Homo sapiens: one gene and its partners. The protein of the gene in region 2 interacts with the protein of the main gene of each other region in a pairwise test. Each region holds a gene or a part of one and is shown on either strand. Other genes may lie near its edges.

Evidence for each region.
Region 1: the proteins of ILKAP (region 2) and LMTK2 interact in a two-hybrid assay, tested with the Homo sapiens proteins (one study listed by BioGRID and IntAct).
Region 3: the proteins of ILKAP (region 2) and ROR2 interact in a two-hybrid assay, tested with the Homo sapiens proteins (one study listed by BioGRID and IntAct).
Region 4: the proteins of ILKAP (region 2) and AATK interact in a two-hybrid assay, tested with the Homo sapiens proteins (one study listed by BioGRID and IntAct).

Annotation. Positions count from the first base shown.
Region 1 is NC_000007.14:98,186,318-98,194,203, reverse strand, and holds part of LMTK2 (serine/threonine-protein kinase LMTK2 precursor), read right to left. Parts: intron 7,328-7,886; coding exon 7,206-7,327; intron 3,477-7,205; coding exon 3,327-3,476; intron 2,591-3,326; coding exon 1-2,590. UniProt on the Homo sapiens protein: Phosphorylates PPP1C, phosphorylase b and CFTR.
Region 2 is NC_000002.12:238,186,289-238,194,174, reverse strand, and holds part of ILKAP (integrin-linked kinase-associated serine/threonine phosphatase 2C), read left to right. Parts: intron 1-4,202; coding exon 4,203-4,322; intron 4,323-5,917; coding exon 5,918-6,044; intron 6,045-7,886. UniProt on the Homo sapiens protein: Protein phosphatase that may play a role in regulation of cell cycle progression via dephosphorylation of its substrates whose appropriate phosphorylation states might be crucial for cell proliferation.
Region 3 is NC_000009.12:91,722,817-91,730,702, forward strand, and holds part of ROR2 (tyrosine-protein kinase transmembrane receptor ROR2 isoform 1 precursor), read right to left. Parts: intron 3,928-7,886; coding exon 3,725-3,927; exon of another isoform or gene 3,631-3,724; intron 2,292-3,630; coding exon 846-2,291; 3' UTR 1-845. UniProt on the Homo sapiens protein: Tyrosine-protein kinase receptor which may be involved in the early formation of the chondrocytes. It seems to be required for cartilage and growth plate development. Phosphorylates YWHAB, leading to induction of osteogenesis and bone formation.
Region 4 is NC_000017.11:81,116,795-81,122,107, forward strand, and holds the end of AATK (serine/threonine-protein kinase LMTK1), read right to left. Parts: coding exon 3,407-5,313; intron 3,290-3,406; coding exon 3,142-3,289; intron 2,787-3,141; coding exon 2,586-2,786; intron 1,649-2,585; coding exon 1,608-1,648; 3' UTR 501-1,607; downstream 1-500. UniProt on the Homo sapiens protein: May be involved in neuronal differentiation.

The DNA of each region.
Region 1 (7,886 bases), on a different chromosome or scaffold from region 2:
GGACTTGTCCAGCGCAGAATTGGTGTAGGCAAGGAGTTCGTTCGTGTTGGTCCCCGTGGAAGCGAGGGTGCAGGGGCGATCGTCCTGTGTCTCGAAGTCATCGCCGCTGCTAAGTTCTGCATTCAGCACACTCCAGGGACTGCTGGCCTCGTCTTCCGTGGGATGCACCTGCTGGGGAACACCAGTCTGTGCTGGCTCCGGCGTGGCTCTTAATTCCAGGTCACTGGAGTTGTGCAAAGCAGACAGACAACTTTCATCTGGCTGGCTCTTTCTGGCTTCCAGGCAGCTATCCTGGGCAGCAGGACTTTGCTCGGGGAGGACTGGCTCGGGTAGGGGCTGCTCCTGTACCAACACCAAGGCGGATGGGGAGGTTCCCGGGACCTCCTCAGACCTTTTCTCGGGCTCAGAGTCATTGTCTGAGAAGTACGCAGAGTCTCGGTATGAACCCTGGGAGCCAGCTGTGAACGTCTCAGGGGTCACTTCTGTGCCTCTGTGACCATCGCCGGCATCTGAGATGACAATGACCGGGTTGGGAGGCAGACCGCTGTGGCCGCCATCGCCCGTGGTGGCTGGTTCTGAGTCTGCGGTGCCCTCGGGAGCGGGATGCAAGGTCCACTCGGGAGACTCCAAGTTCTCTGTTTCGTAGCCACTGTCTGCCGGCTTATCGGGGGGCACTAGTTTCTGGGGAGTGTGAGATCCTAAAGAGTCCAGTAGCGCTTCGTGGACATCCACTGACTCCAGAGAGTCCGGGGTTTCCAGGGACGGCTCAGAGGCTGGGAAGGGTGCTGACAAGCTGTCCTCCAGGAGGCTGTCCTGACTGGTTGAGTCCGAGGAGAGGGCAGACACCAAGCCTGCTTCTTTTGCTGCGTCTTTAGAATTGAGCTGATTTAAAGTCTCCACAGCCTCTAAGTTTTTCTCTAGCCGGCGATGACTGTGATGGTCTTCCGAAAATGGTTTATTGTGCAATTCCTGTCCCAGTTCCGGGAGACTACTCCCTACACTCACCCTGCTGGCAAGGATGTCATCAGCAAGAACAGAGTCACTTTCGGTGAGTCGCAGGGTCTCCTCACTCTCGCCAGGAGAGTCCTGGGACCTGTTATCCAGGCTGTGGGTTCTGGCATCAGTTGAGAGAATTTCAACCGGGACAGTCACAGCGTCTGGACTGATGTCCTGGTGGAGACAGTCCTCCGGGACAATAACATCTAAACACGTGGGCTGGGTTTCTCCCTGTGTTGGGAGTGAGTCTGGGGGTACCCGACGGGGCGTTTCTTCTGTTTCGAAGGAGGTAGGAGGTACCTGCACTTCCGGGGAAGACTGCAATGAGGTGCTCAAAGTGTCACCTGTGAGCATGACATCTGTATCGTCACCCTTTGTGCTTACGTTTTCCTGCAACAAAGACAAGCCTGGCTTATTTTCAGCAAACTGAAGCTCAGTATCTAAAGAGTTTCTACATGACGTTTCTAACATAGCTTCAGTAAAACCAGCATTCTTAAGTTCTGTCTGAAGATCATTTATGTGTTCTTTGCTGGACAATGAGCCTTTTAGTAAGTTTTTCTCTTGAAGAAATAAAAAGTTTTCTGACAATTCTTGAACATTCAATGGATCAAAATTATCTTGGTGCATAAGATTATCTGATAGGCAGAGAGGCTCACTGTCAAAAATCTTACGGGGCTTTTCTTTCTCAAAGTGGCCTGTTATGACTGACTCTTTGGGGTTATCCAAACTGGAACTTAAAGTGGCAGGTTTAAAGTCGGCTTGAACTCCGTTTAATTCCATTAAGTCGAATATTTTTTGGTGACTGGGCAAATCTTCCGATTTGTCCACATCATTAAATATATTGTTGAAAGGGCTCTCGGGGCCACTGGTCACGTGTAAGTCCCCTGGTAAGCTAGAGTCTTTGGGGTCTGTACTGCTTTGGAAGAAGTCCTCATCTGTACTGGACTCCTCAAGTTCAACGCTCCTGAGCGCCGTGAGCTGGGACAGTTCAGGGCCAGTCCTTTCTGGATTATCCATGTCGGTTGTGAGCAGCGCTGGTGGGTAATCAAGCTCCAAGTTACTACCACTTTTTTCTTCTAACTGGATATAATAGTCGCTTCCAACAGAAAGGTTGTGGGCATCAAAAACAGGAACCACTCCAGGGACCCTCAGGGGGACATCCTGGCCGCTGTCATCTTGCTTTCCGGGCCCAGGATCTGAAAGCGAACTCTCAAAAACTTCAACCGGATAGAAGATGCTCGTGTAGGACAAGCCTTCGTCCAGGTGGCCCCGGCTGCGCTCGTCAAAGTGGTCGTGCTTAGCGGCCTCCCAGACATACTCGAAGCTCAGGCCCTGGCTGGTTTCGGTCACGGTGAGGACTTCCTCCATTTCACGACCCAGCCGGTCCCTGGCAAAGTGGTCGAGAATTGGGAATGCAGCATTGTTGGAGGAGTCTCTGCTGTTTGTGTTCGGCTTCAGAGCGTTCCACTGCTGTTCAAAGTCGACCTCTGAGTCCCGCTGGCTCTGCAGCCGCAGGTAAGTCAGCAGCCTGTGCACATCTTCAGCCGCGGGTCTCTTTTCTGGTGACAGCCAACAGAACTGTAAGACTTCATACCTGAGCAGCACACGACAAGCAATCAGTGGAACCATCACGAATTTTTTTTTTTTTTTTGGTTCGAGACGGAGTCTTGCTCTGTCACCCAGTCTGGAGTGCAGTGGCATGATCCCGGCTCACTGCAACCTCTGCCTCCTGGGTTCAAGCAATTCTCTTGCCTCAGCCTCCCGAGCAGCTGGGATTACAGGCGCCCGCTGCCGCGCCCAGCTAATTTTTGTATTTTTAGTACAGACGGGGTTTCACCATGTTGGCCAGGCTGGTCTTGAACTCCTCACCTCGTGATCTGCCCACCTCAGCCTCCCAAAGTGCTGGGATTACAGGGATGAGCCATTGTGCCTGGCCGAATCAGTTAAAAATATCAAAAGAGGCCAGGCACCCTGGCTCACACTTGTAATCCTGGGGCAATGGGAGGCTGAAGTGGGAGGATCACTTGAGCCAGGAGTTCAAGAACAGCCTGGGCAACATACTGAGACCCTGTCTCTACATTTTTTTTTAAATAAAAATAAATAAATAAACAATATGAAAAGAATTTACAAGGACCCTAAAGCCAACTCAACACCCGAAACATTTCTACACCTTCATCACTGCCAACCACATTAAGTAGTTCAGCTCATGGTGACATCATGGTGAAAGAGGAAATGAAGAAACATAATATTTGGCCCACGAATTTTTTTGTGTTTTGGGGACACCTCACAGTGAAGACGAAACAGAACAGGCGGAATGTGAGGCTACCAACCATCTATCAGAGTAGGGCTGCTCCAGCTGGGGCTTCGGGAGTTTTGTGTCTCTCTCTCTAATGACTTGGTTGAGGACATCTAAGTTGGAAAGGTTTGAATACGGCTGTGCGGCATTGTCAAAAAGCTCCCAAAGTGTCACACCCAGAGACCTGTTGGAAAAAGAAAATGGCTGTTTCTCTCTCCCTTTAGATGTCAAATTTTTAACACTCATACTTGTTACATAGCCAGTAATTTTAAGGACAAGGTGTGTATTGAAAAGATTATTAATAGGATCTTTGTTGTTGTTGTTGTTGTTTTAAGACAGAGTCTCACTGTCGCCCAGGCTGGAGTGCAATGGTGTGATCTCCACTCACTGCAACCTCTGCCTCCCGGGTTCAAGTGATTCTCCTGCCTCAGCCTCCCAAGTAACTGGGATTACAGGCACAAGCCATCATGCCCTGCCAATTTTTATAATTTTAGTAGAGATAGGGTTTCACCACGTTGGCCAGGCTGCTCTCAAAGTCCTGACCTCAGGTGATCCACCTGCCTTGGCCTTCCAAAGTGCTGAGATTACAGGCGTGAGCCACCACAACCAGCCAAGATTGTTCTTTAATCTGAAACCAATAATCAACAGCACAATAGCAAAAAAAGAGGCATTTCTGTTAAAATGAGGAAGACCATGCCTCCTATTTGCTACTGAATACCACCCTAGAAGTTTTGGCCAATGAAAAAAGTACAAAACAGAGATAATAGGTGTAATTATGTGGATGAGATGACTATCAACTTTTAAGTACTCAATAAATTATTGGAAAGACCATCAGAATGTTCTAAAAATTTGGCAGAATTGCTGGAAACAAGATAAATACCCTGAATTCTGATTTTTTTTTTTTGGTAGAAAAATACACCTATTAACAACATTAGTAAACACCAGAAACCATCTAAAAGGAATCTTTACATGGGCAAGACGATATCCTCTCTGTGAGACCCACAAGTTTGGTTTGAGTTACTCCTCAGTATCGTGGGTTTTGCTGCTATTCTGAAGGGATCCCCCATCACGCTGGCAGCTGTGTGCCAGGAGAGACCCTGAGGGCTGCCTCACCACAGCAGGAACGCCCTTCTCAGTCCCAGCCCAATCCTCTCTCACACTGCGGTGCTCTGTCCCCATGGAAACAGCCTCTGCTGGCTTCCTGGGTCAGAGGAGCTGCCTCTCATTTCCTCCACGAGGTCTCTGCATTTCCTCCCCACCACGCACTGCCTCCATCCCGCATTTGTGTCTATTTACTGCAATGTTCCCGAACGTGACTCTCATCTGTGTCCTCTGGGAAGCCGTGAACACACACACTGCTAGGTCAGATCCACCCCTAAAGGATGCTTAGTTGGTAGATCCAGGTGTGGCCTAGAAAACTCACGTTTTAAAAAGTTCCCCAGTGATTCTGATGTCCAGCTAACCCTCCACGACACGCCCCAAACAACAAAGAAGCAACTACATTTTGACAAAAATCACTAAAGGAGAGCACCAGAGCCCATCAAAGGAGTAACAGGTACTCAGGAGATTCAGGACAGCCACAGCGAGAGCGGAAGGAAACGCCTGGCCTCCACCACCCCATCCCTGGCAGGCGCAGCCAGGAACCAGGAGCAACTTTCTCTTCCAGGTAAGGGCAAGTAAGAGGATCTCACTGTGGACCCCTACATCCTCACACTGCTCACCGTGGACACTACAGTCCTCACACTGGGGTCGCCTGGGGTCCTCACAGGCAGTAAGCCCAGCTGAAGAATTCAATAAATGAAATAAAAAGAAATACAGAACTTCAACAACAGACTCAAGCAGAAGAACCTCTCAACTTGAAGAAAGGTTGTTTGAAATCACCCAGTCAGAGGGAAAAAGACAGAAGAATGAAAAGGAGTGAAGGGAGGCTTCAGGGCTTATGGGAGACTACAGTGCAAACAAATACACACATTATGGGAGTTACAGAAATAAAAGAGCTAGGAGAAGGCAGAGAAAGGCTATTTAAGGAAAGAACAGCTTAAAAACTTCCCAAGTCTTGGGAGAGATACAGACATCCAGATCCAGGAAGCTCAAAGGTCCTTAAAATACAATCAACCCCAAAAGGTCATTTCAGAGGCACATTATAGTCAAATTGTCAAAAGCCAAAGACAAAGATAAAAATTCTAAAAACAGCCAGAGAAAAGCATTAAGTCACATAGGAGGGAAGCAGAGAATAGGATGGTATACTCAAAGTACTGAAATTGGCAGCCAAGAACACTATGCCCTGCAAAGATATCCTTCGGAAATGAAGGAGGGTTGGGCGCGATGGCTCATGACTATAATCCCAGCACTCTAGGAGACTAAGGCATGAGGATTGCTTGGGGCCAGGAGTTCAAGACCAGCCTGGGCAACACAGCATGACCTCGTCTCTACTAAAAAAATATATATAATAATAACTTTTTTTAAAAAATGGAGAAATAAAGTCTTTCCCAGATAAGCAAAAACTGAAGGAATTCATCATTATGAGACATGCCTTAAGAGAAATGGTCCAGGAGTCCTGTATCTGGAAGCTAAAGGAGGATAACCATCAACATGAAAAAACACAGAAGTATCAGACTCACGATACACTAGGTAGAGCAGATACACAAGGGGGAAAGAAAAAGGAAGAAAACCTCATCACTCGTGGAAGATAAAAAGGTTGATCTCATAGAAGTAGAGAGTAGAAGAGTGATTACTTGAGGCAGGGAAGGGGAGGGAGAGGAGGAATAGTGAGAAGCTGACTAACGAATACAAAATTTCGGCTGGGAAGGAGGAATAAGATCTAGTGTTCTAAAGCACTGAAGGGTGACTATAATTAACAACAAATTTTTGTATATTTTCAAACAGCTCTAAGAGCGGCTTTTGAATGTTCCCAAAAACAAAAAGAAAAAATGATACATGTCTGGAGTGAAGGGGATACTAGTTACCCTGATTTGATCATCACACACTGTATATAGGTATCAAAATATTACACTGGGCCAGGTGCGGTGGCTCACGCCTGTAATCCCAGTACTTTGGGAGGACGAGGCAGGCGGATCACTTGAGTTCAGGAGTTCGAGACCAGCCATGGCAAAACTCCATCTCTACTAAAAGTACAAAAATGGTGTGGTAGTACATATTGGTAATCCCAATTACTCGGGAGGCTGAGGCACAAGAATTACTTGAACCAGGGAGGTGGACACTGCAGTGAGCCGTGAGCCGAGACTACACCACTGTACTCCAGCCTGGGCGACAGTGAGACTCTATCTCAAAACAACAACAACAACAACAACAACAAAAACATATATATATATCACTGTACCCCATAAATATGTCCAATTATATGCATCAATGAAAAAAATAATAAAAGCAAAAAAATTGTTTTAAAGAAATCAATCCAAAAGAAAGCAAGGAGAGAAAAAAAAAAGCAGGACAACAGCACATAAAACATAGCTATAAATTAAGAAGGCTGTGACAGAAATTGTTAGTCAAAGTTTTAGGTGCATCTTTTTAGCTCCCATTAAACTGACTCCTATAAATCATAGTATAAACATGATAGTCCACACCCCTTTCAGTTTCTTCTTTCACTTCAATAAATACATATTAAATATCTATTACATGTCAGGCCCTGTGGGAGGCACAGAATATGAAACAGACTTGGTTCCTGCTTTTCTAAAGGAAAATGGGTAGCAGGGGCAGTATTCAAAACGTTAACTCCATCACCACAATTGTGATAATTACTATTTGTGTCTTTTAAACTGTCTTTTTCACACCATCAGATACTCTTTTGTTCCTACATCTTATACAACTACTTTCCTTTAAGGAAGTACTCAAAGAGGAAGAAGTTAGGACTTTGCCAAAGAAATGACTAATAAAACGGTAAGCCAATACGTACCAGATATTACTATACTTAGTCTGATCTGCAGTTAGCAGTCTGTCTTGAAAGCTGGTTACTAATTCTGGAGCAGTCCATCGCAGAGGGAAAACTTTTTTATCATCTGTTTCAATATAATCCTCCTGTTTTGTTAGAAAGCACACAGAATTTTGAATAGAATTATACTTTTGGTGAGTTCAAGAATTTAAATCCATGGTATTCTCAGAAAACATATACCCAATCCAAAAACCAGGTCAGAAAAAAAAGCAGGCATGAAGAGTGACTTTCTGGGCAGAAAGTGGGTAAGGAGTTTTGCTGAAGCCTCCTGGGCTTCATGACCTCATCTGCGAGCCATGAACGCTTGCTAAGTCATCCTTCTTGGATAAGAAAGTACGCTGTGTCTGATGCATATAACATAGACTCTGAGCAAAACACTAAAACAATATATACTGGGACTTATGCGCTGAACAGTGAAGCCAGTTAGGGAGCAAGACTGTAGGCTTTAGACTCTGACAGACCGGGGTTTGAAGTCCTCATTCTACCATTTACCAGCTATGTGATTCTACGCAAGCAACAACTTTGTGAAGTTTTTTCCTGATCTGTGAAGTGAGGAGAACACAAACCTCCCCTCTGCGGTGAGGATTAAATGAGATGATGCAGGCCGGGCTCGGTGGCTCACGCCTGCAATCCCAGCACTTTGGA
Region 2 (7,886 bases):
ATTAAGTCATAATACAGCATAAGGTTTACTAAAACTATAAACAGGCACATTAATTGGAAGCACAAAGATAATACTGTATCACTTTCTGGTGATATTAACTTCTTGAGGTTCAGATTGTTGGAACTGCCTTTAAGAATTAAGAGTTCACTAATTTACTCTTAACTTTGTTATTAACATTTTTTAAAAATTCAGAGTTCATTATTCCGATTTGCCTTGTTAAACAGAGTGCTTGACTCAAATGTATCGAGGCTAGTAGCATTGGCTCTACCTCCTCCTGAAAATGTTCCTTTTCATGTCCTAATTAAGTAGAAGGGAAGAATAGAGCAGATTCCTGTTGCCATTGCGGCAAAGGTATGATTCTGTCTCATGAGAACTTCTTAGGTAGAGCTCCTCTGGTTGGGGAAGGTGAGGGTTAGGAGAGGTTGGGAGATAGATGGTGTGGGGGCAGTGGGGAATGCAGGTAATCCCATTTCGTATGCAGGTATATTTTCTATATTTTAGGAAAAGTACTCCAGTCATCTTATATAAGAATTCTCAATCTTCAGGGCTGTAGACCCATACCAAAAAATTGCAGCATCCTCACACTCACAGTGTGGCCTGAAACCTTCCCAATAAAGATAGTACCCTTAGTTGTAATGAAAGTTAATATGTTCTGGCTGGGCGTGGTGGCTCACGCCTATAATCCCAGCACTTTGGGAAGCCAAGGCGGGTAGATCACTTGAGGTCAGGAGTTCAAGACCAGCCTGGCCAACATGGCGAAACCCTGTCTCTACTAAAAATACAAAAATTAGCCAGGCATGGTGGCATGTGCCTGTCGTCCCAGCTACTCAGGAGGCAGAGGCAGGAGAGTCGCTTGAACCCAGGAGGCAGAGGTTGCAGTGAGCTGAGATCACGCCATTGCACTCCAGCCTGGGTGACAGAGAAAGACTCTGTCTCCAAAAAAAAGGAAAGTTAATATGTTCAAAGAAGGCTGTTAAGGGATTTAATAGAAGAAATGAAGATACAGCATAGCTGTCTCTTATTTATCTACAGGACAAAAGGCAAAGTAGTAAAAAATTTAGAAGATTTACATAACACTATTAACAAGCTTAATTTTTTGGATATATAATCTTGGGTCTAGTGTTTTAGATTTCTAGAGAAGTTAACACATTTTTTTTTTCTTGAGACGGAGTCTCACACTCTCACCCAGGCTGGAGTGCAGTGGCACAATCTTGGCTCACTGCTACCTCCACCTCCCGGGTTTAAGCGATTCTCCTGCCTCAGCCTCCTGAGTAGTTGGGACTACAGGCGTGTGCCACCATGCCTGGCTAATTTTTGTATTTTTAGTAGAGACAGGGTTTTCCCATATTGGCCAGGCTGGTCTCGAACTCCTGACCTTGTGATCTGTCCGCCTCAGCCTCCCAAAGTGCTGAGATTACAGGCGTGAGCCACTGCACCCAGCCGATAACACATTCTTTTTTTTTTTTTCCTTTTTTGAGACTGTCTCTCTCTCTGTTGCCCAGGCTGGAGTGCAGTGGCGCGATCTCAGCTCAGTGCAAGCTCTGCCTCCCAGGTTCATGCCATTCTGCTGCCTCAGCCTCCCAAGTAGCTGGGACTACAGGCTCCCGCCACCACGCCCACCTAATTTTTTTGTATTTTTAGTAGAGATGGGGTTTCACCATGTTAGCCAGGATGGTTTCCATCTCCTGACTTCGTGATCCGCCTGCCTCGGCCTCCCAAAGTGCTGGGATGACAGGTGTGAGCGACCTTGCCCGGCCCGATAACACATTCTTAAGCGGGCAGGAACCATTTACAAAAGTTGATTATGTACTAAGCCATAAAATAAGCCTCAATGATCTGTTTCTTGTACAGACTACATTCTCAGACTACAGTGTAATTTGCTTAGAAGTCAATAACAAACCTGTAAGGTGTCTTTATTTTGAAATTTTATTATTTTTCTTTTTTTCTTTTTCTTTTTCTTTTTTTTTTTTTAAGACAGTCTCACTCTGTTGGCAGGCTGGAGTGCAGTGTTGCGATCTCAGCTCACTGCAACCTCTACTTCCCGGGTTCAAGTTCCTGTCTAAGCCTCCCGAGTAGCTGGGACTATAGGCACCTGCCACCACACCCAGCTAATTTTTTGTATTTTCAGTAGAGACGGGGTTTCACCATGTTGGCCAGGATGGTCTCAATCTCTTGACCTCATGATCCGCCTGCCTCTGCCTCCCAAAGTGCTGGGATTACAGGCATGAGCCGCTGCGCCTGGCCTTTTTCTTTTTCTTTTTTTTTTTTTTGAGATGGAGCCTTGCTCTGTTGCCTAGGCTGGAGCGCAGTGGCGAGATCTCAGCTCACTGCAGCCTCCGCCTCCTGGGTTCCAGTGAGTCTCGTGCCTCAGCCTCCCGAGTAGCTGGGATTACAGGCGCTACCATGCCCGGCTAATTTTTTGTATTTTAATTAGAGACCGGGTTTCGCCATGTTGGTCAGGCTTGTCTTGACCTTCTGACCTTAGATGATCTGCCCATCTCAGCCTCCCAAAGTGCTGGGATGACAGGTGTGAACCACCACACCTGGCCATCTGTTTTGGAATTTTAAAGGAAGAAAGTTTCACATCCATATGGGGAAAACTGGAACCCATACAGTAAGCCACAGGACACTAATGGGGACCTTTGGGAGAGATACTGTTGGAAACATCTGTGTTGCCTTATGCAGGGTGCATATGTGTATTATGTTATACTGTTGCAGAAATAGGGCCTTGTGCAACTAATTTACGCTTCTTGAGGGCAGGAACATTTTCATTACTTTTTCCTCAGCACTAAGAAATGTCTGACACAGGCGGTTCAAGACCAACCTACCCAACATGGTGAAACTCCGTCTCTACTAAAAATACAAAAATACAAAAATTAGCTGGGTGTGATGGTGCACTCCTGTAGGCTGAGACAGGAGAATTGCTTGAACCCTGGAGGTGGAGGTTGTAGTGAGCTGACGTTGCGTCACTGCACTCGAGCCTGGGCGACAGAGTAGACTCCGTCTCAAAAAAAAAAAAAAGACACCTTGTGTTTACCAAAAAAATTAAAAAATTAGCCGGGTGTAGTGGTTCCTGCTTTCAGTCCCAGCTGCTCAGGAGGCTGAGATGGAAGGATCACTTGAACACAGGAGTTGGAGGCTGCAGTAAACTGTGATCATGCCACTGCATTCTAGTCTGTGTGACAGAATGAGACCCTGTGTCAAAAACAAAAAGAAGAAGAAATGTCTGGCAAAGAGTAGGTTGAGTAAGTAAATAAGTACTTGCATCCTTTTTTTTTTTTTTTTTTTTTTTTTTTTAAAGAGAAACGTCTTACTACTTTGCCCAGGCAGGTCTCAAATGCCTGGGCTGAAGTGATCCTTCTGCCTCAGTCTCCAGAAGTAGCTGTGACTGCAGGCATGTGCCACTGCATCTGGCTGTTGCATACTTTTATACCTAAATGCAGAGAACATTTCAAGTCATTTATTAGGACAGCAGCTGCCCTTATTGGAGATTGATGTGTTAGGCACTGTGACAAATGCTCTTCCTACTTGTCCTGACCCATTTTCAAACATCCCTCTGAGATGACAGTATTCTTACCATGTTACGCACGGGTGAAGACAGCTGAGACTGAAAGATTAAGTTGCACACCTCTTTGAAACTTGACTTTTCTCATTTCAAACACATACACTGCAGATTCCCTTAGCTTTGAGTACAGATTCATCCTTTTGCTAGTGGGAACAGCTGTGGCAGCCTTATTTTGCCTTTGAAAGGATGTATTACAGTTCTTAAAGGCTGCCATTTACCTCATTTTGAGCCTTTTCGAGTACTTGTTACTTTTTGGAACGTGATTAGGATATGTTAGTTTGCTTACAGATTTTGTAAGTGTTTGTTTAACACTAAGAGCCTGTGGATATAAAAACATGTATATGCTACAGGCCAAAAAAAACCATGTATTTTTACCACTGGGAAAAGTCTTTTACAAACCCCTTCAGCAGGGTCAGTTTGACTCAGGGCCTGGATCTTAACTTTATGTTCTCTCACTGTGGGACCCCCCTCCCCCTCCCCGCCAACCATGAAGACACAACTCCTGGGTCTGCCTGTGTCTGCCAGTCCTTGCTTCAAATGACCTTGTCTTTGAGTGCTAGGATGAAGCCCAGTCTACTAGTGACTTTTTCCAACAGTCTACAGCTGTGTTTCTGTCTGGCTTTTACTTTATTTCCAGGTTCTCTTGCCACATCAATATCCCAGATGGTAAAGACTGAAGGGAAAGGAGCAAAGAGAAAAACCTCCGAGGAAGAGAAGAATGGCAGTGAAGAGCTTGTGGAAAAGAAAGTTTGTAAAGGTTTTCAGACAATTTGAAAACAAATGTATTAGACTTCATATTTTAAAACAACCCAGAGCAAAACCAGTTTCAGCTTTCTAATAATACTTTCTTTTTATGTCTGTATTTAAGAAATAAGTAGGGTTCCCTTTTTGCAAATGAATTTCCAAGTTTCTCTGTGCTTTCTCCTACTTTTCATGTACATCTATCTCTGATCCTACCTTTGATCAGATAGGAAACCTACATTTGTTCCTCAAGAGTTAAAAAATACAGGTGGTTTTTTTCTTAGCCTTCTGCAGTGAATGGTTAGTTTTTTGACCACCTAGTCTCTCTCTGACTTCCAATCTTTGTTTGCAGTTTGTCAATTAGTGCTTTGAATTACGTGATTTAGCTTAGTAGGCAGCTTCCCTAAGCCTGGAAAAAGCCGTTGAAATTTGTAGTCAGTTGTGTAACTTGTCAAAGTTAGTGAGGAAGAAAACGAAAAGTATTAACTAAAGAGAATACTTCAGTTGTGGTACTAAAGTATTCTTGAGCTGTGGGATTTTCTTTTTTTCTCTTTTTTTTGAGACAGAGTCTCGCTCTGTCGCCCAGGCTGGAGTGGCACCATCTCGGCTCACTGCAAGCTCCGCCTCCCGGGTTCATACCATTCTACCTCAGCCTCCCGAGTAGCTGGGACTACAGACGCCTGCCACCACGCCTGGCTAGTTTTTTGTATTTTTAGTAGAGACGGGGTTTCACCATGTTAGCCAGGATGCTCTCGATCTCCTGACTTTGTGATCTGCCCGCCTCGGCTTCCCAGAGTGCTGGGATTACAGGCGTGAGCAACCGTGCCTGGCCCGAGCTGTGGGATTTTCATTGACTGCATTGTCCTTTGTCACAGATTACCTCAGTGAAAGCTGTATGATGCAGGCAGAGGTATGTGAAAAAACCCACTTGTAGCTTTGCTGGGAAGATGTCATCTTCAACTTAGCTTGTCACTTCCCAGAAGACAGCTCTTCACAGTGTTCATTTTATTATTTGTCTGGCATTAGGTATCAGAAAATAAGCTTAAATGAGTCTAACCATTAAATGTAAATAGATCTCTGCCTGCATTGGAATCTTTTATCCTTTTCTTCCTCAGTTGAAGTAAAAGCAGCTGATCTTACTGTTTGTTCAAATTCTTCACCAGCCTTGAGCATGGAAATACATATTTTCAGGGCATCTTAAGGGCTTTTGAGATAAACTCTCCTGACTTGCATTTGTCCTTATTCAATTATCACAAGACTAATTTGCACATGATCCTTTTGCCTGATTTGAATCTCACTTCTCTGGGATGGCAGCACATCCCTTGCCCTGATGCTTTGACTTACACCCTAGACAGAGTTGTTTTGTGCTCACTGACTCCTCTTTTGTGTCCCTGTGCAACCTCTTAGAGCTCACCCTGTCCAACAGTGCTCCGATTTGAGTTATAGACTTGCAGCTGGGGGAGATGCCTTAAGGGGTATTGCTTATTTGTTTGCGCCATTAGGATATTGCTGAGTCAGACAGTCATAGTTCCCTCTCATTTGCTCTGGGACTAGGGTTTCCAGAGGGTTGGGCACAGTTTTGTATTGGCTCTTTTGTTCTCTTTTCCTTAGCCTCTTCGGTGATCTTTGGTCTGAAGGGCTATGTGGCTGAGCGGAAGGGTGAGAGGGAGGAGATGCAGGATGCCCACGTCATCCTGAACGACATCACCGAGGAGTGTAGGCCCCCATCGTCCCTCATGTGAGTCTCATGTGGTAGGAAGCCCGGCTGGCATTAACATCTCCTGGGTTCTGACTGGCATTTTGGACTGGCTAGTTTGTATTTACTAGAAAATCTAACACATCACTTGATTGTACATCAGTGATTCTCAGCTGGGGTTGATTTTGCTCCCCGCCCAGGGGACATTTGTCAGTGTTTGGGTACATTTTTGTCACAACTGCGGGAGGGAGTTGTTACTGGCATCTGGTGGGTAGAGACTAGGGATGCTGGTAAACATCTTAGAAGCACAGGGCAGCCCCACAACAAAGAATTGTTCAGCCTGGAATGTCAGTAGTGTCGCGGTTGAGCAGCCCTGCTGAGCGGGAGATGACGCTTCATAGCATGGCTCTGCAGCGTGTGTTACTCCTTACCAGCAACTGAGCGGCTTCTGGCAGAGAATATTTTTAATCCATGACCTAGAAGATAAGAGTTGGAAGCCACTAATTAAAGTATGAATGGTGATCAAGCAGAGCTAGTACAGATAATCAGGGCCCAGGAAGAACAAAAGTCAAAATGATGTCAAGGAAAAGACAGACAATGAAAAATTAGCTGCAACTATACAAACTAAAATGAAGCCTTCTGGATAAGCTCTTGGGCCTGGAAAAAAACCAGAAGGTAGGACATTAAGTTGGCTGTAAACATACATTATAGTACATATTACATAGGTTACATAATTCAGAATTACATAATAAATACATTACGTACCTTTACTGACACCAGTTGGTCATTAACATACAGTGTGCTGGAGCCGTTTGGGCTGATGGCGTTTGTCCAGTAGATGAGGTCTGCTCATGGAGATGAGGTGATGGCTGCTGCAGAGCAGCTGATCATATGTAGAGGGGACGAGATACACACCCATTGAGACAGGGTCTTGCTGTCTTGCTCAGGCTGGAGTACAGTGGCACAATCATAGTTCATTGCAGGCTTGACCTCCTAGGCTCAAGCAGTCCTCCCACCTCAGCGTCCTGAGTAGCTGGGACCATAGGCATGTGCCACCACAGCCGGCTAATTTTTTGAATTTTTTGTAGAGACAGTGTCTCCTTAAGTTGCTCAGGCTTGTCTCAGAGTCCTGGGCTCAAGCCATCTTCCCACCTTGGTCTCCCAAAGTGCCAGGATTACTCGCATGAGCCACCATACCCAGCCTGGGATTTGCATTAAAACCAGGAAAGGGACCTCTGGAGCCCAAGAAGGCAGATCCATTGAGTGTAAATTTAATTGGGAACACTACATCATGCCTTGCAAATAACAGGCAGTAAGAACAGCTCTGAGTTATAAACCAGATGAGGTTTTTTTTCTCATGGCTCAGGATGTCCTAAATTGAAAAGGAATTCCAAAAAACTTGAAAGAAAAGCAGCTCTCTAGAATAAATGTCATTTCTCGTGGGCATTTTTGTTTTTTTTTTTTCCTTGAAATAGTTTATTTGATGTCTTTTATTCCATATATGTGGGTTTTCTGGCAAAATTTGAAAGGGGAATGGGAATAAGAGTAGTAAGATAGGTTTTAAAAATGAGATATTTAAAATTTATTTGAGTAACAATTCTGTAATATCCTCCCTGCTCTTATGCAGTCATGTGCTGAATAACAACATCAAGTCAGTGATGGACTGCATATATGACGGTGCTCCCATAAGATTACAAATTTTGTAGAGATGGGGGTCTCGCTATGTTGCCCAGGCTGGTCTTGAACTCCTGGCCTCAAGTGATCCTCCTGCCTTGGCCACCTCCCGAAGTGTTGGGATTAACAGGCGTGAGCTGTCGTGTTCAGCCATAATACCATGTTTACTGTACCTTTTCTATGTTTAGGTATGTTTAAATACACAAATAC
Region 3 (7,886 bases), on a different chromosome or scaffold from region 2:
GACCAAAATACTTCAATGAAAATGGCATATTAAAAACATATAAATTACATTTAAGCTCTGTACATGATTCTTAACAAAAATAACAATACCGTGTTCTGTACAATACTGCTTCCTCTGAACATTCCAAACCCAAGAAACACTTTCCCTTGAATTCCCAAAAAAAGTGGGCAAAATACACATGGAGTATAATTAAAACCATTTCACCAAATACAAAGCTGTCAGTTTCTTTGAAGGCACACATTTTGTTGTATCTCAGGAACTCCCATTTCAGAAGCCCCTTGTCTTCCGACCCCAACAGGCAGCAGAGGGCAGCCTCCGTTCCAGCGAATCTTTGGCTGCTAAAGGGAGAATATTCTCAGCAGGGAGGCAGCAGAAATGGAGCCCCTTCATCCTCAAACCAACAGACCAGATCGGTTGTCAGGAACCTCAAGACCCGAGGTGCCTCCTCGCTGCCTTTTGCAGGCCCTTATTCCCAACGTTTTGAAATATTCACTCCATATATGACATGGAGTGAAGCTGCCACCTATTTTCTTGAAAGGCATTTGCTGCTCACTACCAGTCTACCACCAGAATCAATGTATACAGCCCTGGGGATGACCATGTGTCCTGCTCCCCAGGACGCCGTGCTGCCAGACCCCCTGCCTGGCTTGGGTGCTCCTAGGCAGGGCAGCTCTCTGTGTCAGAGGACAGAGAGGAGCAGGGCTCCACCTCACCCAGTCTGCAAACAAGCCCACTGGCCGGCGGGCTCTTGTGATTGCTGAGTATGGTGTCTTCTCAAAGGTGACTGAGGTCCCTGTGGGGTCTCGGCGGGGCTTCTATCCCCGAACCCCGGGCCCTGGTGCCACTCAAGCTTCCAGCTGGACTTGGGCCTCGTCCACCTGCAGAGTGTCACAGTCCCCCAGCAGCTCAGTCTCTGGGACAGAGCCTTCCTCCTCCTCCTCTGCTTCCTGCACGGTGCTCTGGGCCCCATCTTCTGGGGCGTTCTGTGTGTCATCAGCGCCCTCTGAGAGCAGGGCTGCCCTGTCTGCCATGGATGTGTTGGAGGGGGCCGTGGTGACGTAGCCTGTGCTGGTGGAGCCACTGCCACTGTGGTGTGAGCTGGGCTTGGGGACCATCTGAGGAGGCACCTGCTGCGGGGCCATCTGCATTGGGATCTGCACCGGGTAGAAGTTGGGCAGGTAGGCCCCATAGGCCGGCACCGGCTGGTAGCCGTTGACGGGGACGTAGAGCTGCGGCGGGGGCACCATGGGTCTGATCTGGCCCTTCATGGGGATGAACTGGGGCTGTGGGAAGGGCGGGGCCTTCTGCTTGGGCCCCACGTAGCGGGCGTTGCTCACATTGCTCACTGGGCTGGTGCTCAGGGAGCTGGTCTGCGTGGTGTTGCTGGCCCCCGAGGTCTGCGCCGAGCTGTTGTAGTTGGAAAGGTTGCCCCAGGCTCGGAGCCGGCTGTGGATGTCCTTGAAGCGGGGCCGCCGGCTGGGGAACTCGTTCCAGCACTCGATCATGAGGGCATACACCCAGGCGGGACAGTCATCGGGGCAAGGCAGCACCTGCCGGTTCCGGATCATCTCCACCACATCCTGGTTGGAGTACCCGCAGTAGGGCTGCAGGCCGTAGCTGAAGACCTCCCACAGGACCACACCGTAGGACCAGATGTCTGAGTCGATGGAGAACTTGCCGTACATGATGGCCTCTGGGGCCATCCAGCGGATAGGCAGCAGCGAGTTCCCCAGCAGCTTGTAGTAATCGGCGGCATACACCTCTCGGAAGAGGCCCAAGTCTGAGATCTTCACGTTCAGCTTGTCGTACACTAGCACATTGCGGGTGGCCAGGTCCTTGTGAACCACGTGGTGGCTGGATAGGTACTCCATCCCCGCCGCGATCTGTGCCACAAGGTGCACGAAGTCGGGGGGCTCCAGGGCGGACTTCACCGTGCGGTCATCATCGGTGCTGCCCACGTCCGAGTGCGGCGAGCGCATGACCAGGAATTCGTGGAGGTCGCCGTGCGAACAGTAGCTGAAGATCATGCTCAGGGGCTGGTCCTTGGTCACCACGCCCAGCAGGCAGACGACGTTGGGGTGTTGCAGCCGTGCTCGCAGCATAGCCTCATGCCGGAACTCCTCCCGCAGGGGCCCCTCCGCTTTGTCCTTCAGCGTTTTGATGGCCACAGCCTGGGTCTGCTCCCCCGGGGCAGGGCCGAACAGGTGACCTTTGTAGACTTTCCCAAACCGGTCCTCTCCCAGCTCCTCCATGAACCTCACCGCAGACAGGCTGATCTCTTTGAGTTTGGCCTGTCAAGAAGAAAAGCCCCACGTGAAACATCACTGTCACCGCAGCCCTGGAGGAAGCTGCAGAGCAGCCGGGAGGAGTGGAGTCCCTGTGCGGCCACGACTAGGGGGGCCTTGCAGAAGACCCGCTGGTTTTGCCCACCCAGCCTTGGCCTGCCCACCCACAGCTCTCTAGTTAACCTTAAATACGGCTCTGATGCCAAGGTTGCTTCCCATCTGCAATCTTCCACAGATCCCAACCAGGCTACAAATAAGGTCCCTCCAAAATCCAGCTGGGACACACTGACTTCCTTCCCACTTGTGCATGTGTGGACACACACACACACCCTACAGCCAGGCCCAGGCACCAGCTGCCCTGGGGCTGCCCCGGACATACCCTGCCAGGTTCCCTCCAACCCCCATGTGTGCCGACACATCACGTGAGATGTGATGTCTTTTTCTCATGGACCCCACAGAGGCTTTCCCACGACATTTTTGTCTTGGCAATTTTGTCACTTATAAGAGTCCAAGCCAGTTGTTCTACAGAGGTTCCCTCAATGGGCCTGTCCATGGGCCTCTTGACTAGGGTCTCTGTTAAACATGTTCCTGGAAAGAGTACCCCACAGGTGATAGGAGCCCTGAGAACCCTGCATCTCTCTCGGCCTCTATGACACCAGCTCCTCCCGTGTGGCCAGCCCTCATCCTCCCCAGAGGTTCCTGGGCCTCCGTGCAAGCCCCGGGGCTCTGTGCCCTCCTCGCTGGCCAGCCCCTGCCCATAGCAAACTCTCACCGACTCTGGGACTGAAGAGCCAAGTGCATCAGCTCCCTCCTGGCCACCTTGAAGAGCCCCTGCAAAGCTGGCTGAGAATGATGTTACCTACGGCTTGCAATGAGTGTAAATGCCCTTTTACAACACAACCTGGAGAGGCTGCAGCACATGTTCTCATCTGTTGTATTTCAGTGCCCCACCCCCATCTAAGGCTGCTCTGGGATGAGGGGTGGCCTTTTAGTGGTAGCCTGTCCACCTACTCCCATTTAAGAGCTATTCTCCTATCCTTCCCTGTAAACAAAACAAAGCAAAACCAACCCAACCCAAAAGTGTCAAGAAAAATTATGGGGAGCATTGGAGCCCTGTTGTTCTTGTGTGTCTTCTGGGCAGAGCTGAGGCACCTGGACAGTGAGGACACTCGCTGGGGCCCACAGGGGCAGCATGGTCCAGGCAGAAGGAGGCCCATGGACTCTGGGGCAGTGAATTCCCAACACGCCTGCCATTTATTTTCTAAAGCACACATGTCCTGATCTAGTTTACAGAAAAAAAAAATGGCAAAATGAAGCGGAGTTTAAAATAATTATGTGCTATGTATCAAGTAAATTAAGACATTTAATGTTGGGGGAAACAACCCCTGAGGATTAAACCTGGAAGAGCCACCCGGGTAGAAAATGTAAGGCATGGAGACCTGTTTGTGCTGGTTAATGAGGGGCATTTCCATGTCTTGGCTGGGCGAGGCCATCAGCTGTCGCCGCTGCGGTGTGGACGCAGATGCCTTCTGCTTATTCCGGCACATGCAAACCAAGAAGAAAAGGCAAGCGATGACCAGTGGAATTGCGATGCTGGGGACCAAGATGTACAGAATCCCCATCTTGCTGCTGTCTCGGGGACCTGTGAACAATAAGGCTTTCGTGATTTTTCAGAAAACATCCCTTTTCTACTCTAAGTTCTCTACCAACCCACTCTCCACCTCCAGCCAAAATCTTCACGTGCACGTGTGTCATCACCTAAGTTACACAATGGGGTAAAAGGGCACACCACACCTTAAAAAACATGATGCACCAAAAAATGCACACCCGGCTGCATCCTGGGGAAACAAAACCCAAAACTGCCCAACCTGGAAACAAGCGGGAATATGCAGTATAAAAAGTAAATGAATTCTAATGATCTTAATAACGACCACATCCGCTTTCTGTTCCTGATGTTTGAATACCATCGGAGATAGGTGCTCTGCCCAATTTCACTTTTATCAAGGTCTCCCCAGCTACTGACAAGTTCATGAAATTCACTGGAGACCCTTGTCCAAGGTGAGTGAAACTTGGTACTGGGATTAGACACGATCCTTTTCCTCATTCAACATTTTAATGTTTTCTTCACATTTTTATCTAATGATGACAGATTCTTTTAGGGTAATAATTAAACATGCACTAGATTTAAAAGAGCACCAGTAGTCCATGCTCTTGACCCAATACAATATGCAACAGGGGCACAAGAATTCTTGGAAAGCACTGGGTACCAAGATTCAAGGCCACCAGCTACCTTCCCTGCATTTTTTTTTTTTTTAAATCACAGGGAAAAGTAACTCTTTGTCTCCCTCTACAGGATTTACAGAAAGGTACAGGGGGCACACCAGGCAGGCTGAGGTGACCTCAGATTCTGAGCAGGACTCCAGGCAGGGCTGGCTCCTCCCAGGCTGCGTGGCCCCAAGCACCCCACACGTCAAAGCAATTGAATGTAAGACAAAGTGGTGCCGTTTCAGGACGCTGACCCTAAGCCTGGTGGAAGGTGAGTTCTCTAGAGAGCCACTTTCCCACATCCCCAGAAAACCACGGTGTTCTGTTTTCTCCTTAACCTTGCAAATAACTATATCAGACTTAGAGGGCCCCATGGCCAGGGGGCAAAGCGCTTCTCATCTGGAAGCAAACAAGTGATTTCTGGTCAGTGTGAGGCCTAAAAGAGCTAACTCGGTTCTAAAAGTGAACATGCTACTGCCACCTTAGGAAAAAAGCACCTTGTCCCAAAACCCAGCCTTGCCCCACCCCTGCTCCCCCAAATAAGAAGAAATCAAGTAAAACCACAAACAAAACTTTCTTCTGGCCCCACCTAGCAGCTTCCCCTCTGAAAGGGTTCTGAGGCAGGTGTTCCAGAAATCTTCGGGGCACTGGGGATGCCGATTCATTCTTTTTTACTAGGGTTTGGTTCATTTTTCATTATTAAGGTTAGCAGGAGAGTCCAGGCCACTCTCACGCCAAGACCAGAGGTGTGAGCTCACACTGACACCATCACCTGCTTTTATTATCTACTTAACATTACCAACATGACTCATGCTTACTGGGAAAAACTGTAGTATTACAGAAATGTGGCCTTTCAAAAGATAGTATTTCTAACAGTCCTCTTTCCCAAAGGCTATAAATGGTTAAGTTTCGTGTTCTCCTAACTTTATGTATATTTTAGGTTGAACCACATGGAACAACCGATATTCAACTATTCTGACATATAGACACAGTAGTTTTATATGGTTTTCTTAATTCGAATGTTGAATGAACTTTATTTTATTTATTTTTGAGACAGAGTGTTTGTTTATTTATTTATTTTTGAGATGGAGTCTCGCTCTATCTCCTAGGCTGGAGGGCAGTGGTGGGATCTCAGTTCACTGCAACCTCTGCCCCCTGGGTTCAAGTGATTCTCCTGCCTTAGCCTCCCGACTAGCTGGGATTACAGGCGCCCGCCACCATGCCTGGCTAATTTTTATATGTTTAGTAGAGACAGGGTTTTGCACTGTTGGCCAGCCTGGTCTTGAACTCCTGACCTCAGGTGATCCGCCTGCCTTGGCCTCCCAAAGTGCTGGGATTACAGGCGTGAGCCACCACACCCGGCCTAAATGAACTTGATTTTAAATAGAATCGTGTCATCCATATTTTCCTGCTCCTGTTTTTTTGGCAGAATAAAATCTCTTGGACAGCAGCTCATGTTGGAGCAGATAGATATGTGTGTTCTCCCACAGCTGCATGCCACTCCACAGCACAGGCGTCTCCAACTGCCCCATCCAGCCCTACTGATAAACAGTCTGTTTTATGTTTAGCTCTCACAAGTGATTCTGCAATAAATATCCTTCCATTTATGCCCTGTAAGTACAAACCTGCGATACAAGATTCTAAGAATTGACTGGTCCAAAATCATACATTTTTTTCATGCTTTGATTTATTTTTAATTACAAAAGTAATTCCTACTCACTGTAAAAAAAAAAAAAAAAGTCTTGTATTTGAACACTTTTGTAGGTCTGGGGAAATCACTGCTAAAAGTTTGATATCCATCTTTCCAAAACCTCGTAAAAGTCAGGAGCCTGTGTGTGCTCACACACAAACTCCCACTCATTTTCCTTTTGCCAGAAACAAAACAATAAGCAAAAAAGCACCTCTAACACAGTTCTGTCCTACAACCTGCTTTTGTTCCTTACAGGGCACAGGGCCATCCTTCATTGCAGGACAGCTTTAAGGTCTGGAGTGCTCCAGAGTGCCTAGACCGCAATTTGAATGACTGATAATTTCATTCTTAAAATTTGTTCTCCCATAATGAACACATTCTTGAAGATTTGTGTCTGATCTGCTGAGCCAGAGGCAATGCCAAATCTGGAGCTGCTGAATCACACATCAGGAAGGTCATTAGTGCCAGTGTTTATTTCCTGCACTTCGGAGTAGAGACACGCGGGCCTGCACCCCAGGAGGAGATCTCCAGGTGCATGGTGAGCCCAGCCTCGCTTCACCGGCTGCTCTCTCTTTATCCGCGGGTGCCCACTCATTCACCAATTGCTGCTTCCAGCTCCCAGCCCAGCCTTGGTTACCCTGCTGCCTGGACTGGTGAACCGGGCATGACTAAGACAGAGGTGAGAACTGTCGAAGCTGTCAACCATCAGCCACGTGAGCTTCCATATTCATGACATTACAGACACACTTGCAAGGAATGAGGACAAGCAATGAATTCTATTTTCGCCTCACTCCACCAAACCTAAGTGTAAAATCTGAGAAGCAGTGAAAAGCTCAAAAGCTGGTGGGTGGAAGGGAAATATTTTTACGAATATTAGGAACTACTGAGCAATAATGGTGTTTTTTGTTTTTTGTTTTTGAGAAAAGGTCTTGTTTTGTTGCCTAGACTGGAGCGTAGTGGCACCATGATGGCTCACTGCAGCCTTGAACTACTGGGCTCAAGCAATCCTCCCACCTCCACCACCCAAGTAGGTGTGCCACCACGCCTGGACAATTTTTGTATTTTTTGTAGAGACGGGTTTTTGCCATGTTGCTCAGACTGGTTTCAAGCTCCTGGGTTCAAGAGATCCACCCGTCTTGGCCTCCCAAAGTACTGGGATTACAGGTTGTGAGCCACCGCACTGGGAGATAATGTTAATGGAGAAACAAAATGTCAAAGTGAATATCCCAGGACCATCCATACATGGGAAAAGGGCTGATGGAAGGGGGTGGGCCAAAACGCAAACAAGTCACTACTGGGTGGTAACATTAGGGGTGATCTGACATTACTCTTCAGACTTTTCTATATTTTAAAATGTCTTGTAATGGTCAGATGTTACTTTCATAACAACCAATAACTTGCGTTATTTATTTATTTATTTTTGAGACAGGGTCTCACTCTGCTGTCCATGCTGGAGTGCAGTGTCACAATCTTGGCTCACTGCAACCTCCGCTTCCCAGGCTCAAGTGATTCTCCTGCCTCAGTCTCTTGAGTAGCTGGGATTACAGGCATGTGCCACCGCACCTGGCTAATTTTTGTATTTTTATGGGGTTTCACCATGTTGACCAGGCTGGTCTTGAACTCCTGACCTCAAGTGATCTGCCCAC
Region 4 (5,313 bases), on a different chromosome or scaffold from region 2:
CCCTTACCTGGCTGGGGAGGTGTCTCCAGCAGAGCTCACTCCCGCCTACAGCCACTCACACCCCGGGGACAGGAAGCTGTAGAGTTGGCGGGCCAGGAGGGCAGTTGAGAGCTGGCCAGCGGAGGGTGCAGGGAAGCCCAGCTGTGCTCAACTCTCCTGCCTCCGCCTTCCACCCTGGGCCCAGGGACAGACAGACATTGCCCTCAGAAGGGCAGGGAGGAGGCTGTCCTGGAGAGGCCTGTAGGTCCATTCTTCACCCGTCCCTACCAGGCCAACTCGGCCTGCAGGAAGGGAGACCTGCAGGGCGCTACCCCTGCGCCCCCACACACAGTAGGGCCAGAACACCATCCCCTCCACCGGGGTGTGCCGAGGACAGTGGGGAGGAGAGGAGAGGGGCAGCTTCCTCCTGGCCCCAGGAAGGGCTGGCATCGGGTTCCTGGCACAGCCCCTCCTGTCCAGGACTTTATCATCGGCAGACCTCAGAAGACAACACACAAAGGTTTCTTTTGTCTTAGCTTCATTTCTCTTAAAAAACAAGGAACAAGAAAACATTGCACCAGCGTTCTAAGCCTCAAACAAAACACAAAACAAATCCCCCTGCGAAGCAACAATAAACTTTACATCTCTTTGGCAACAATAACTTAAAATCACCCAACTTCCATTCGCTCCAACCACAGCAGTTAGTTAGTTACAAAAATATTCCCTGTGCTGCCCTGCCCCCAGCTCCACCCCTTCCCCACCATCCCTCTCCCTGTAGGTAGGAGCCCCCCAACACTGACTGCGGGGCATGGCCCCCACTCTCCTTTGGCAGCTGGGGCACAGGACCAGATACTGCCCCACAGAGGGGAGCTGCCTGCACGGTCCTGCCAAGGGCACCTCTAGAACGGGGCCCACGGGGCAGGAGTACAGCCTGGAAGCCCCTCCACCCCTGATCTTTTGGGCTGCCCACCGTGGCCACAGCGGGACCCAGGTGGGAGCAGCCTGTTCCCTGTGGGAAGGGTGGGCTTACGGGTCTAGCTGAGTCAGTGAAGGGGAAACAGCCACGGACTTTGAGATAAGGGCAGCGGAAACAGGACCGACACGGGCGCCCAGGGCCACTCCTTGCCCTGAGCCACCAGGAACCAGGCAAGGGTGGGGGCACAGGGGGTGGGAAGAGGCTCACAAACCTGCCAGTGTCTCGGGGCCATGCCTCGTCCTGGTTTAAGTGTCCTGTGAGCACACCGGAGGAGCTGCCGGATGGGGCATGCGGGTCCTCCGAGGCCAGGCAGGCAGGGCAGAGGGTGGGGGCCGCCGTGCCCAGGGGCACTGGCCCCTTTTGAGTGTGTATGTGTGTACAGACACCCACTGTGGCTCCAGGCGCCCCCAGGGGCTAGCAGCAAGCCTAAAAGCCCAGACGAATTCTGCCTCTGGGGCGGAGCATGGCCGATCTACCATCCAGGGCCTCTCATCCCACGGGCTTCTCCAGGACACCGCGTGGGGCAGAGGCACCTGAATCTGCTGCCAACAGCCACCAGGACGTGGTCCCCACCTTCTCGGTCACCATCCTCGCTGCTGCCTGGCAGGGGCTCCGGTGACGCCAGCCTTGAGGGGCAGGAGCTGCCCAGGTCTCAAGCCTCTTTACTCTCACCCCCGGCACCAGCTTCAGGTCCTGGCAAGCAGGACAACAAAGTGAACACAGGGTTCTGAGACACCAGGGCTGCCTCCCCCGCAACTCCCACCTGGCCTCCATCCCTGGCCCACATACAGGCCGGGCCCCTTCCCTGCAGCAGATCTGGCTGTGTCTAGGTGAGAGATGGACCCATTTCCCCCACTCCTGTCACTGGACTCAGGCCAACAACTCTCAGCAAATGCCTCCGAGTCCTGTTTTACGCATAAGGAAACTGAGGCCTGAACAGGAAGGGGATGGCCAAGGTCATGCAGTGGCCTCCTGGTGACCTGCCTGCTTGTTCAGCCACACAGGGGGCACCCTGCACCAGGGGTGAGGCTGACAGGCCCTTCCCCCAGGGCTGCAGCCACAGGCCAGGACAGCTAGGGAAGAGGAAGCTGGCAGGGGGCCTTCTCCGAGGAGGTGGGCACTTGTCAGGCACGTGGGCAGAGGCTGTAGGGGTAGGGACACCTGGCAGAGATGAGCCCAGCCTGGGGTGGGGCGGATAGTGGAGGGCCATGGCCGGGAGCGGTGGCTCAGGCCCCCAGCAGGGCTCCACCTGGGCACCGTGGGGCCGGGGCACCGTGGGACCTGGGTCTGCAGGGACTTCTGGCTGGGAAGGTTCCGGTGAGAGGGCCTGCCGCAGGTCTGCGGGGTAGGGTCAGGCAGAGGAGAGCCGAGTGCAGGGGCCAGGTGAGGGCCAGGTGAGGGTCAGGTGAGGGTCAGGTGAGGGTCAGGTGAGGGTCAGGTGAGGGCCAGGCGAGGGCCAGGCGGGGTCCAGGCTAGGTCTGGGGCCGGGAAGGAGCGGGGCCGGGAAGGAGCGGAGCGGAGCGGAGCCGGGGCTGGCCCGGCCCAGGACCTAGACGGAGGGGCCCCACCCTCGGAGCTCCGTGCCCTGCCTCCCGCGTGCCCTTCTGCCACAGCCCCGCCCAGGCCTCACCTCTCTTGGACTCGGCGTCCGAGTCAGACACGTGCGTGATGGAGAAGCGGGACGTGGGCGCGGGCGACACCGTGAAGCGCGAGAAGGGAGCGGGCGTGGGCGTGGGCGCAGCCGGGGCGGGTGCGGCCGGGTCTAGGGCCATGGCGAAGGCTGCCTTGGCCGTCATCAGCGGGAAGTCGTCGTCCCACGCGAACCCACCACCTGCAGCCCAGGTCGCGGCGTCACTCGCGCTCACAGCCTGGGACCCCGGCCCGGCCCCGCTCCCACAGTCACGGGCCCAGGCCCCGCCTCCCATCATGTCACGGGCCCAGGCCCCGCCTCCCATGATGTCACGGGCCCAGGCCCCGCCTCCCATGCAGCACGGACAAGGCCCCGCCTTCCGTGACGTCACGTACCAGACCCGCCTCCCATGACGACACGGGCCAAAGCCCGCCTCCCACGCGTCAAGGACCAGGTGCTCCTCCCATGATGTCACACATTAGGCCCCGCCTCCCACACAGCACGGACCAGGCCCTGCCTCCCGTGACGTCACGGGCCCAGCCCCGCCCCTGCTCACCCTCTTCCGCTGTGGAGCCATTTGGGGAGCCATCAGCCTGCTGCGGCCGGTTGGGGGCGCTGGGAGAGCCGGGGCTCCCCCTAAGGAACGTAGGGGGCGATTCCTTGGCGCCCGGGAAGGGCTCCCCGAGCTCCCGGGTGGGGCTTTCCTGGAGGAATCAGAGAGCACCAGGTAGCTCGGCCGCCAGGAGCCGCGGCCGCTCCCACCCCTTCCTGCGGGAGCGCGACCCCCAGCCCCGGGCAGACCCCGGGTGGCGGCGGCCCACCTGGTCAAAGAGGTAGACGGTGACGTCGTCGAAGAAGGACACGGCCTTCTTCTTGCGTTCCAGGTCCTCGCAGAAGGTCTCGGACAGCAGGCTGGGCATCTTGAGCAGGCTGCGCAGGTTGCGCGCGCTCTGGCTCTCAGCCACCACCACGGGCACCGCCGGCGCCTCCTCTTCGCTGTCCTCGCTAGGCTCCTGGACGCTGTAGCAGCGGAGCTCCTCGTCAGACTCGTCGCTGTCCTCACTGTCCTCCTCCTCCTCCTCCGGCCGGCCCTCCAAGGCCGCAGGGAGGCCGGGCAGAGCCAGGCGGAGTGGGGCTCTGGGGGTGCCTGGGCCCCCCATCCGCTTTTGTGGGGCCGGCCCTGACAACAGTCCTGGGGGCCCCTGGAACTCAGAGCTGTTGCCTTCTGATCTCAGCGGAACCGGGGTCAGCAGGAAAAACTGGGAGCAGCTGGGGCTGGGCCCAGGCCGCACCTTGGCTGGGCCTTGGGGCTCCGGAGGCTCTGGGACCAGGCCCGAGGGGCAGGTGCTGGGCTCTGGGGAGGACCCTTCAAGCTGCAGCAGTGGGGGCAGCACCTCCCCGGGGCCAGAGCCTTGTGCCTCCCCGGAAACCCCAGGCCTGAGACAGACCTGCTCAGACGGCTGCCCAGTGCTCGGCAGGCCCAGCTCTGGCCCGGGGGCTCGGTCCCCGCCGCACTTCTTCTCTGGGCCTGAGGTGGCCTCGGCCTCAGCCTCGAGGTCTGAGAAGTAGGCAGAGTCTCGGTAGGGATTCTTCTCGTTGAGGCCACTGAGGGAGGTGGAGAGCCGTGTCTCGGGCCCGGGGCCCTCACCCTCTGAGGCCAGCTCCGCAAAGGCCTGGGGCTCACACCCTTCCTGCGCCTCCTTGAGCACAAACTCAGGGGACTCATAGTTCTCGGTGTCATAGCCACTGTCCAGCGCTCGCGGCTGCCCTCCAGAGGGGCCAGTGGCCGACGGGCTGAAGACCTCATAGCCACCATCACTGGCTGAGGACGGGATGTCCAGGGAGTCCAGGGAGTCGGGGGTCCCCACCTGCTTCTGCAGAGAGCGGAAGGCTGGCACCACATCCGGCCTCCTGGCCTGCAGGCCGTCGCTGGACGTGTCGGTGAAGATGCCTGAGGTGGCCTCGGCCGTGTCCTCATCCTCACTGCTGGGTGCCTCCACCTCGGGAGAGCTGCTGCTGCCATTCAGGGCAGAAGCCAGCTTGATGGCAGACACCTCGCCACCAGTAGCAGGCGTGGGAGAGTCAGGCAGGGCATCAGGGGCGTCGGGGGCACTGGCCTCCTCCGAGGGAAGTGGGGCTCCCTCCTGGGATGGGGAGGGGACGGAAGGAAGGGGCAGGCGGGGTCCGGTAGTGCCCTCAGCCTCCGTGGCAAGCTTGGGCTCTGCCTGCGGGTGGTCACCCCCACTACTGGCTGTCTCTGTCCAGGAGGGTGTAACCAGGCAGGGAGCAGGTGCCAGGCCCTGGGCAGAGCATAGATGAGGGAGGCCGGGGCAGCAGCCTGGCTCCTGGGCAGAGGCTGCCTGGAGCCCAAGCAGAGGCTCTCCAGGGTACCCCGGCTCGGGGGAGGCCCGTGGGGTCTGCTTTGGACTGGGGCAGCCCTCAGCGTGGCCGCCCGCAGAGACGGGGTCCCAGGACTCTGGACAGCGGCTGCCGCTGTTGTTGTTGGCTGACACGTTGGAGCGCCAGTGCCCGCGCTGGGCGGCCCTCCGCGCTCCCACCTCCTCTAGCTCATCCTCGCCAGTCAGCGGCAGCGGGGGCGCCCCTGAGCTCCCCAAAGGGGACGTGCCCAGTGGGTCCTCGAAGAAGGCAGGACAGAAGGCGGCCACGCCCCAGTCTGCATCCTCCGCTCCTCCCTCCGCCAGACTCAGGGGCCCCGCCGAGGGCGAGG